Linked DNA regions of Homo sapiens: region 2 is linked to region 1. The links come from fine-mapping of genetic effects on gene expression. A gene starts in region 1. The other region holds a variant in brackets. All regions are shown on one strand. Distances are from middle to middle. Region 1 holds the start of KAT6B (lysine acetyltransferase 6B). Region 2 overlaps KAT6B (lysine acetyltransferase 6B).

What was found. PIP is the estimated chance that this variant, and not a neighbour inherited with it, causes the effect.
Region 2: its variant is the best candidate, but not a certain one, in a credible set for the expression of KAT6B in whole blood (INTERVAL, PIP 0.79).

The regions. Positions count from the first base shown.
Region 1 is chr10:74,823,669-74,829,040 of GRCh38, forward strand. KAT6B (lysine acetyltransferase 6B) reads left to right here and starts at 2,932. Exons shown (of 18, transcript NM_012330.4): 1 at 2,932-3,117. RefSeq lists silencers at 1,058-1,107, 1,618-1,787, 1,898-1,997, 2,108-2,307, 2,998-3,397 and enhancers at 1,239-2,010, 2,011-2,782.
Region 2 is chr10:74,986,667-74,992,038 of GRCh38, forward strand. KAT6B (lysine acetyltransferase 6B) reads left to right here. Exons shown (of 18, transcript NM_012330.4): 13 at 2,353-2,446. Among named protein-coding and RNA genes, the nearest start is that of SNORD172, 32 kb to the right of the region's middle. The variant G/A (reference allele first, on the strand shown) is at 2,815.

The sequences.
Region 1 (5,372 bases):
AGCACCTGCATTATAAAAAAGCACACCTTATAAGTGTCCTTCTCTTCGAAACACCTAAGTGAACTACACTGAATTATGAACTAACTAATGGTTTGTAAAAATTCGCCTTGAGCAAGCTATTGAAGATACTAAATAAACGAGGCTGAGACAGAGTCTGAGGAAACCCAACCTGCTGTTTGTTTTATCAGTAATGTAACTCAAAAGTAGCCAAGCGGATGGCTGGAGTTTTCTCTGTGTTTTGTTTCCCTGGGCTGAGCCTGTGAATGCCAAGATTTAATCTAAAGAGGTTTGTGTTTTAAAAAACTAACAACCAAGTAATAAAACACCTATAAAAACTGTTTATAATGGAACCGGTGACAGTTTGTAGTGTAGTATTACAATTCTTCTGCTCCCCCTCGACCTTTCTCTATCCTTTCATCCAACTCTGTGCCCTTTGTCTAAGTTCCTTTCTCACCTTGCTGCCAAGAAGCTCAGGAGGAGAGGGAGCTCACACCCCAAAGCAGCAGACCATCTTTAAAAAATGAAGTGTGTGTTGTGGTCTGCATTTGAAGACAGGGCTGCGTGTGCTGCTTGTTTTGTCTGAGATAAGGACGAAGATAAGTTGTCCTAACAAAGTACCTACCTAGTTGTACAGTGGTTTCTAATGGGAAGGTGAAGATGCCGCTGCAGTGTCAGTGGCATGAGGCTGCAGGAGTCAACCAGGGCAGGAAGCCTGGGGCCTCCCCTCCCTGGCACCCGGCATAGCCATGCCCAGGCCCAAGATGGCCCTGACTCCAGGGACAGACTTCAGGCAACAGGTGGTTTTCCACCCAGGCCACCATGCCTGAAACTTGGTTCTTTTGCAAAGCCATAGTTCTCCTCCCCCTCTCAAAGAAATGGCGCCTGGGAGGGAAACTTCGTGCTCAAACTCTCTAGGAGCCATTTCTCAGCCCACCTTTCCTATTTTCTGAAGTCTCCCTTGCCAGCATCCCATTCACCTCCGGAAAGAACCAGGGGCGCTCTCTTCAGAGTCCAGAGAGCTCTGGGAGGCATGTGGGCAGCGTCAGAGTGGCCTCGCCTGGGCGGCCAGAGGAGCCCCCAGTCTCCCTCAAGTGGGCCTCAGGAACTCGGGGGGCCCAGGGGAAGCCTGGAAAACCGAACTTCGCCATCAGCCTTCCTTACAGCGCTGGCTAAAAGAGAGGGGGGGAAGGGCCCCCCAGCGGTCTTCCCCGCCCCCCTCCCGCCTCAGCCCCTCTGCCATCCGCCTGCACCGCCCAAGAAAGCACCCAGAACGCGGCTGAGCTCGCCAGCTCCTCGCAGGCAGGGAGAGAGCATCCTGGGGGGCAGCTTCCCCCTCCAGCCCGCGTCTGACATCCCCACTCCCACACAAGGATGCCGCCGCCGTGCCCTGTCCGCAGTCGCTGAATGTCACTGCTCCCTCTTCCTCCCGATCAGGGTAGACACAGCTCCCGAGGCGTCCCCCACCCCAAAACTGCCGCGATCGCCCGAAGGCGCAAAGCCTGGGCGAAGGACGAAGTTTGGGGCCCACAGCGACGGGAGTGGGGACGCGTTGGCGAGGACCGCACCTCAGTCCCAGCCCTGGCGGGCACACTCCCCGCCCCAAACGGCCCAGGCGTCCCCATCCTCCCGCGGACACCAGCGTCTCCGCCCTCCCCCGAGGGCGGCGAGAGGAGCCCCCCGGGGCGGAGGCAGGTACCCCCGGGGCGGAGACTGGGGCGGGCGGGGTCCGGGCTGCGCCCCCGGCCAGGCCGGGCGGGCTGGCGGGCGGCGCGGGGGGAGCGGGGCTGGGCGGCGCTGCCTCGGGCTCTGTGCGCTGCAGCCCGGAGCCGAGGAGGAGGAGGCGGAGGAGGAGAAGGAGGCGGCGGCGGTGGGTCCCGGGCGGGGGGAGCGCGGCGCTGCGGACCCGGGCGGCTGGCAAAGGACGAGGCGGAGGCTGAGGAAGGCAGCGGGGAGACCCAGGCTGCAGCAACAAAGGGCAGCGAGCGATTGGCCGGGCTGCAGGCGAGGTTAGCCGGGGACCCGGGTGGCCGGAGGCAGCGGCGAGCGGTGCACGTGCTTGCAGACACGGGCGAGTGTGGAGCCGGGGGGTGCACGCCCGGTGGGTAGGGGCTTGCTCCCCCGAGGCATGGGATGGCGAGGAGGCTGCAGCGACATCGTTCTGCCTGCACCCGGCCTGGGGCTGGCAGGGTAGGGGTGTGTTGGGGGGGGAAGGATGCGAGCCAGGGGGCGGGCGAGTAGTCGCCCGGGACGGGACGGGACGGGAGAGAGGGTGGAGGAGGGGGCGGGATGGAACGCTCCGGGCGGCGCGCCCGTCCGCACACTCCACCGAAGGAGCTGGCGACTGAGAACCTCGAATTTTAACTTCGCGTGCCCGCCCGCGCGCGCCCGCCCGCGCCCACCCCTAAATCCTGCGGCCGCCGCCAGCGATCAGCTCTCACACAAACTTTAGCTGCGGGCTAGGGGGTTTGGGGTTGAGTGGGGGAGGGGAGAGGGAAAAGGCCTCCTGATTGGCGTCGTCTGCAGCCAATAAGGCTACGCTCCTCTGCTGCGAGTAGACCCAATCCTTTCCTAGAGGTGGAGGGGGCGGGTAGGTGGAAGTAGAGGTGGCGCGGTATCTAGGAGAGAGAAAAAGGGCTGGACCAATAGGTGCCCGGAAGAGGCGGACCCAGCGGTCTGTTGATTGGTATTGGCAGTGGACCCTCCCCCGGGGTGGTGCCGGAGGGGGGGATGATGGGTCGAGGGGTGTGTTTATGTGGAAGCGAGATGACCGGCAGGAACCTGCCCCAATGGGCTGCAGAGTGGTTAGTGAGTGGGTGACAGACAGACCCGTAGGCCAACGGGTGGCCTTAAGTGTCTTTGGTCTCCTCCAATGGAGCAGCGGCGGGGCGGGACCGCGACTCGGGTTTAATGAGACTCCATTGGGCTGTAATCAGTGTCATGTCGGATTCATGTCAACGACAACAACAGGGGGACACAAAATGGCGGCGGCTTAGCTCCTACCCCTGGCGGCGGCGGCAGCGGTGGCGGAGGCGACGGCACCTCCTCCAGGCGGCAGCCGCAGTTTCTCAGGCAGCGGCAGCGCCCCCGGCAGGCGCGGTGGCGGTGGCGCGCAGCCAGGTCTGTCACCCACCCCGCGCGTTCCCAGGGGGAGGAGACTGGGCGGGAGGGGGGAACAGACGGGGGGGGATTCAGGGGCTTGCGACGCCCCTCCCACAGGCCTCTGCGCGAGGGTCACCGCGGGGCCGCTCGGGGTCAGGCTGCCCCTGAGCGTGACGGTAGGGGGCGGGGGAAAGGGGAGGAGGGACAGGCCCCGCCCCTCGGCAGGGCTCTAGGGCAAGGGGGCGGGGCTCGAGGGCGGAGGGGGGCGGGGCGGGATCGGGTGGGGGCGGGGTTCGGGGAGTCGGAAGGCGGGGGCTGAGAGGGAATTTCTGAGTGGGAGTGAACTGGTAGGAGCGGTGGGGGGCCGGCGAGGGTGTGAGGAAGACTAGTGAGGGTTGGGTGGGAGGAGAAGCTGAAGGTGTAGAAGCAGGTGCAGAGGGAGAGTTAGGGAGGGATGCAATTTGAGAGAAGTGGAAGGCGGACCGAGGGGTGTGTGAGGGCAGGTGAGATGATACCGAAGGCGAGATTGCAGTTGTCTGGGCGCAGAGTAGGTGGGTTTGGGTGTGGTGGATGTGGAGTAGAGTTGAAGCGGTGCAGAGTGTTGGGTTTGGGGAGGCGTTGAGGGGTTTGGGGAGGCATTGAGGCGCATGTGAGGAGCAGGTACGATTGCAGTGATGGGAAAGAGGTATCTGGGTGGATCGCATGTTGGAATAAGAAGGAGGTTTGCTAGCTTTGGGGTATGAAGTATTTTTTAAAAACGTGGAAGGATGGGATGGTTGTGCTTGGGAGAGTTTCTGAAAGATGATGCTAAGACAGCAGAGCAAACTTAAATATGAAGGAAGGGGAGAGAGGCTGCTTAGAACTTGCAAAATCTGTGGCAGAAAATCTCCTGGGGACAAGGGATTGGTAGGGGTGGGACAAGGCGGCAGGTGTGAAGAAAGTGGGTGGAGCTGTACAGTAATTTTCGGTGAATGTGATTTGGTGGACTGTGCCAGGGGTGAGGATGGGGCAGAGAAAGGTGTTAGTTTGGGAGACAAGTTGTTTGATAGGCTGTATTTATTATTTTTTATAAAAATGAGAAAAGGGTCTCACTATGTTGCCCAGGCTGGTCTCGAACTCCTGGCCTCAAGTGATCTGCCCACCTCTGCCTGACTGATGGGATTACAGACGTGAGCTATGGCGACCCGTGATACGCTGGATTCATTATGTTAAACTTGATCTGGAGTCTTCAAGGGAGTGTCCGGCAGCAGGGTATCCCAGGAAGAGACATGCACCATACCTTGGGATAGGACATTTTGCATAGCTTTGAATTTGCTAGTACTTTGCTGTGGGCAGAGTGCAGGGAGTGGTAGGAGATGACCAGGCAAAGGCAGAGGAGGGGTTAGATTACAAATGGTGTCCTATGCCCCATGAAGGAGTTTAAGCCCTGTAATTGGTAGAAGGTGTTGGGACGTGTTAAAGAGAGTGTTAGACAGAAGTTGTGAAGGGGTAGTGATAAAGAATTACAGATGTGGGAAATAGGAAATGAAGACCAACGAACCAAGTATGTTTGGGGTTGGAGGTACCAAGGAAATTCAGGGTAGAGCATATGAGGGCCCCTCCTATATGGACAGAAGGTGGAAATAGCAAATGGAAATTAGTTGTGTTCGAACAGTCTTAGTTCTATGGGGCCCCAAGAAGGTTTTTTGTGTTTTTTTTTTTTTAAAGTGCATTCTTCCTGTCTTACTTGTATACCCTAGATTTTTTGGCATAGCCTTGAAATAAAACACTCCATTTTTTTCTTACTCATAAGTTCTTTTTTTTTTTTTTTTTTTTTTTGAGACGGAGTCTCAGTCTGTCGCCCAGGCTGGAGTGCAGTGGCGCCATCTCGGCTCACTGCAAGCTCCGCCTCCCGGGTTCACGCCATTGTCCTGCCTCAGCCTCCGGAGTAGCTGGGACTACAGGCGCCTGCCACCACGCCCCGCTAATTTTTTGTATATTTAGTAGAGACGGGGTTTCACCGTGTTAGCCAGGATGGTCTCGAACTCTTGACCTTGTGATCTGCCCGCCTCGGCCTCCCAAAGTGCTGGGATTACAGGCGTGAGCCACCGCGCCCGGCCATTCATAAGTTCTTTACACATTTATCAGAATGAATTTGGACAGTATTTTATGTTTTTAAGAAGGAAAGGATAATGCACATGTTTTTTCTTTTCCGAGAACTTCTACTGAGAGTTAAAGGTTGGAGTGGTGAAGTGATGGTTTAAAAAAAAAAAAAAAGAAAAGAAAAGAGAGAG
Region 2 (5,372 bases), 160 kb after region 1:
GATGATAGAGAATTAACACTGAATAAAACAATAAATAGGAAATCTATATGATTAATAAATAAAACACCTTACCTTTTATGTAGGTTTGTCAAGATCATTCTTCTCCAGAAACTTAAAAAGAATAGTGGTTGCGTCCTTGCTGTTAGAAAATGGTGTTTCTTTCATTGTCTGTGGATTTAAACATAGGCTTAACGGTGCCCACCTTCCTCGTGCTGCACTGACCATCCCACTCCTGGGTCTTGTGTTGGCTGCTGAGTAGCAGCCATGTGTAGAGTTGGTGGTGATTCTTGAAGTTTGAATTTCTGCCTCTCTTCCTGCCAGGGTACCCAAAATTTTACTCAGAACTAGCTCAACTTTTCTCATAGTTTCTTCTATAGCATGGCAGCAGCTGCTGTTATTTCCTACTATTCTGGAATACTAATATGCCTTGGCAGTATAGTGAAACAAAAATTAATCTAAAAAATAAGCATGTTAAAAGACTAGATGAGGCCGGGTGCGGTGGCTCACGCCTGTAATCCCAGCACTTTGGGAGGCCGAGGTGGGCAGATCATGAGGTCAAGAGATCGAGAGACCATCCTGGCCAACATGGTGAAACCCCGTCTGTACTAAGAATACAAAAATTAGCTGGGCATTGTGGCACCCTGTAATCCCAGCTACTCTGGAGGCCGAGACAGGAGAATCCCTTGAACCCAGGAGGCGGAGGTTGCAGTGAGCTGAGATTGCACCACTGCACTCCAGCCTGGCAACAGCAAGACTCCATCTCAAAAAAAAAAAGACTAGATGAAACTAAACCATATTCTCATGTGTCAGCTGGAATCTAGAGGACTCTGGCCCTTTGGGGCTATTCTTGAACCACATTCTAGAGGTTATTAGAACTACAGTTCAAGGATAGCCAGAGAAGGGCTGGAATGACCTGGAAAGGTTCAGTGCAAATTGTTACATGCATATGACTTTCCAAGCACATAATAGATGGCTGTAAACAGAAAGGAAAGAAGGATTAGTTATTTTATTCATAGCTTAGAATTTAGCTGTAGTAACATGTTAAGCTGCACGGAGGGGAAGAAGGATCACTACTATGTTGGATCTCAAAAAACTCCGAAAGGTGGAAATGGTTCTGGACAAAGCAAGGAATGGTATCAAGGATGAATTCTCTTAACCCAGAGTACATTTCTTTTTAGAGAGAGTGACCCATTTGTCTAACTTTGCAAAACAGACGAATTACTTGAACCTTTGCCATTGATGTGCACATCCAGTGAGGGACAATTCATCTTCTTAGAAAAACTGACACACATTGCTTCATCCTCATTTTTTAGAGGCTCCATAGACAACTACAAATGTGCAAAAGTTGGGAGTACATCTTTTTCACAAAGAAATCTTCAATTCTGCCCTGTAGGGTTTTTTCCACAACCATCTCCTGTGATCTTTCAAATTGGTTCATTAAAGATCTGGGTGTTCTGAAGTAATTCTTTGGTGTGGTCTGTACCATTTGTGGTCAGTCTTATTTGTGGTTTATATTTGGCCAGAGCATCCACGACCTCAAAAGCCTTTTCCAGATCTCTGTGTAGGTTTTGGCAACTTCTTTGTACTCTGAATAAAAAAATACTGCCCTGATGCCACATCCCATGAAAGTTGCAAATTCTTCTTTAACTGTAAGAGCTGTTTCTTACCATGTTCTACCCAGTCTTCCTCCTGGTTTCAAACTGTTCGTAATATTTTGGTCTAACCTTTGTTTGGAGGCTTTAGGGTTTCTTGTTGTTGTCTTTTTGTTTCATTTTATTTTGTTTTCCTGGTTTGAAATGCAGATTATTTCTCTAGCTTTTTACATTGACTTTTTATTCATAGGAGAAATATATGTGTGCACATCTACCCACACAGATACTGTTTTAGTTTCACTGGGACATTTGCCCAAAGGCAGAAGACAGATTGCTGTTGCAGAGTTGTAGATTATTATTATATTTAGCAAGATAGCCAGCTAAATCCTAACTTACTCCACTGGGTGACTCCCTGGGATGTTATTTTCTCTATCTCTGAAGTTATTTGAGCAAGGAAAGCATTTCTTTTATGCTGTCTATATTCTGTTTTATTTGGTTCATATATTTCCTTGGATTCTTTATGCATATTTTATGGCACTGACTTTCAAGAATAAAGATGTAGTTGAGAGGCATGTCAGAGTCGATGGTTTGTTGTTAATTGATAGTTTGATTGATTAATATAGTAGGATTTTTCTGCTTGATCCTGACCTAACCCATTGGCTTTCTTTAGTGGACAGTTTTACAAGGACAGTGGCAGGTGCAGGGAATTGCCCACTTCAGCAGGGCTCTGACATACTTGATCTGTTTCTCCTTCCCTCAGGAAAAGCTTTGCCAGCAGAAGTATAATGTCTCCTGCATAATGATCATGCCCCAGCACCAAAGGCAAGGATTTGGACGGTTTCTCATTGATTTCAGTAAGTGAAGTACTTTATTTACTTTCATGATCCAGGAAGCTGATGGCCGTTACAGGAAACAGTAAAATATAAAACTTTATTTAACCTGCATTGTTGTTTTTATCAATAGATAATGGGCTTTCTATTTATATTTACATAGGTTAGAACATCTTCCTCAAGTGAAAAATGTACTGCTGCTCAGTGATTGTACTCTAGGAAATTGAGACTAGATCTCTCGGCAGCAGGCCTCATGCACAAAGCCATTACCCTGAATGAACCGACAGAATTACATTCCATTTTGTGGTGCTCATGCTCATTAGCACCAAAAGAGGCAATTATTTGTGATTAAAGCTAAAGGAAGTATTATTTGAAAGGATTTTCAGCTCTCT[G/A]AAATTTTGCCTATAATCTTGTACAGTACAAAGCAGAAAAGGTATATTTCCATTTAGAAAAATAATTTTCTAGGCAGCTTATCCTGGGCCTTGCTAGTAGAAATAACTCTTACCTTATTTTGTTAATTTCCCTTTTCTATTATGGAAATTAATACAGTGTTTGTATCTAGAGGTTTCCCAAGAAATATTTATCTTATATGCACTCATATCTTCTGAACCTTCTCAGTTAAAACCGGCATAATATATAAAAGTATGCACATGGATAATGTTTTTAAAAATGGTAGTTTTTTTTTTCCTCCTTGTTTATATTATACTGGATGTGTAAATGTTGTGTTAGGGGTACATTTGGAGAATCAATTCAAAATATCTAGATAACATGATGACCAGATAACCCATGATAATAGTCATTTCTCGTCATGTAAAAATCTGTCACTGGCCGGGCGTGGTGGCTTATGCCTGTAATCCCAGCACTTTGGGAGGCCAAGGCAGGTGGGTCACAAGATCAAGAGATCGAGACCATCCTGGCCAACATGGTGAACCCCATCTCTACTAAAAAATACAAAAATTAGCTGGATGTGGTGGCACACACCTGTACTCCCAGCTACTAGGGAGGCTGAGGCAGGAGAATCACTTGAACCCGGGAGGTGGAGGTTGCAGTGAGCCGAGATGGTGCCACTGCACTCCAGCCTGGGTGACAGAGTGAGAGACTCTGTCTCAAAAAAAAAAAAAAAAAAAAAAAAAAAAAAAAAGTCTGTCGCTAGGAACCAGGTGCTTCTTGATTACCAGATTGCAGTTTATCTGATTATTAACTGAAAGGAGGAAAATTTAGGACTTTGCACAATCTTCATCAGCTACATCAGATGCAAAAACCACAATGTAAATGCGCTTACAGAAAACCATGAAGAAATATAGTGAATCTAAATCTATATTGTTAGGTATTAAAAGATTAAGGTCTGATTAAAGTGTAAAATAACTGAATAGCAGTTTTGGACTGATTTATATGATTTATTGACATTGAAGAATATGATTCTTTTAAAAGAAGAATTTTGATTATTTTTCTCTTTTTAGATAATATTTTTAGTTATTTATTAATTACCCTAGTCTTATCTATACTTTCCTGACCTAATTATCCATGAAACCAGTAATCCCAAGGAGGGCCACCTTACCAAATGCAGTGTACCATTTTTATTTTTATAGAGTCCTAGCTGTAATCATTTCTGAGGGCAAAACCATTTATCTTGTTCTCTAGTTTTGTGTGGCTACCATTCATAAGTAGTTCATAAATATAGTTTCTGGTATGCATAGCAGCCATTCAAGCCTTAAATGTTTGGTCATATCTATATGCCTACAGAATAAGGCAAACTCCTTAGCTCAATATTTAACGTCTTCCAACATCTAGTTCCAGCCTGTCCTTTAGGCTTTTTCATCTACTAATCTCCTTTTTCTCAAATAGTCTGAGCATGGTCCTATACCTCTATTTTTTTGTCTATTCAGTCCCTTCCTTGAAATGATCACCTCGTCCTTTCCTAGACTCCGTCTGTTCAAAATCCTGCCCATTGTTAAGAGCCAGCTCAAGAATCTCTGCTTTTTGATCCCACCTCCTGGAATTTTATCTCATACCTTTATTTTATCTTATACCATATTCTATATGGTATCACACTTACACTCTGTTCACCCTTTTATGATAATTATTGATGGAGGTTTCATACTTCCAACTTCTCTGTATCCACTAGGACAGTTTCCTTTATAATAATATGTATTAGATGATATAAATTAAATTTTATTGATATAAACTAAATTTCCAAATTGATATATGGTTGCTGTCCACAATCATTGTCTACCTAAAATTAAAAAGGAACTGGTACTTACTAGGTAAAAGTTCAAGCTCTAAATTCAGTAGTATCTTATTTGTACAGCATGATCTGGCACTAAGGCCTTCTACATAAGAGAACAATCTGGGTAACAAATACATTATCTTCAAATGCTATGTCTTTTTTTTAACCATTTTAGTGAAAACTGTTACTAGAAACTACCTTGTATTATTAAACTACAGAACACATTGAAACCTTTTCTCAGTGGCTCCAGGCCACCATGATGAATGCTGTCCACCAGGATGTGAGCAGGCAAAGTAGTGCTGAGGGTGTGGTTTTTTTCTTTTCTCTTTCCTGTACACCTAGCATTGCCCCTACTGGAGTGAGTTAAGAAGTGCAGTGAAAGATTTGAATAAAGTTGAAGAGACTGGTGTTATTCCCTCAGAGAAGGGGAAACTAGGGGAAGAATTTTATAGCACTCAAAGAAAATGGGAACTGGTGTAAACCCAATAGAAATTCAGTTTAAAACCAAAAGAATTTCTTGGCTATAAAAGTTTTAAGGAAGATAGAGTAGGCTGCTGAAGAAATTAATAGCACCTTCTCTTGGAAGTTACTTAAAGTAATAGTAGATAAATATCTTTCCAAAATGATTGAAATCCAGCCTTTGAAGGTAGGGATGAGTCACATGACCTCTCATGATCATTTTTGATCTCATAATTTGGAGCCCAGGATAGAAAGCTAACTAGG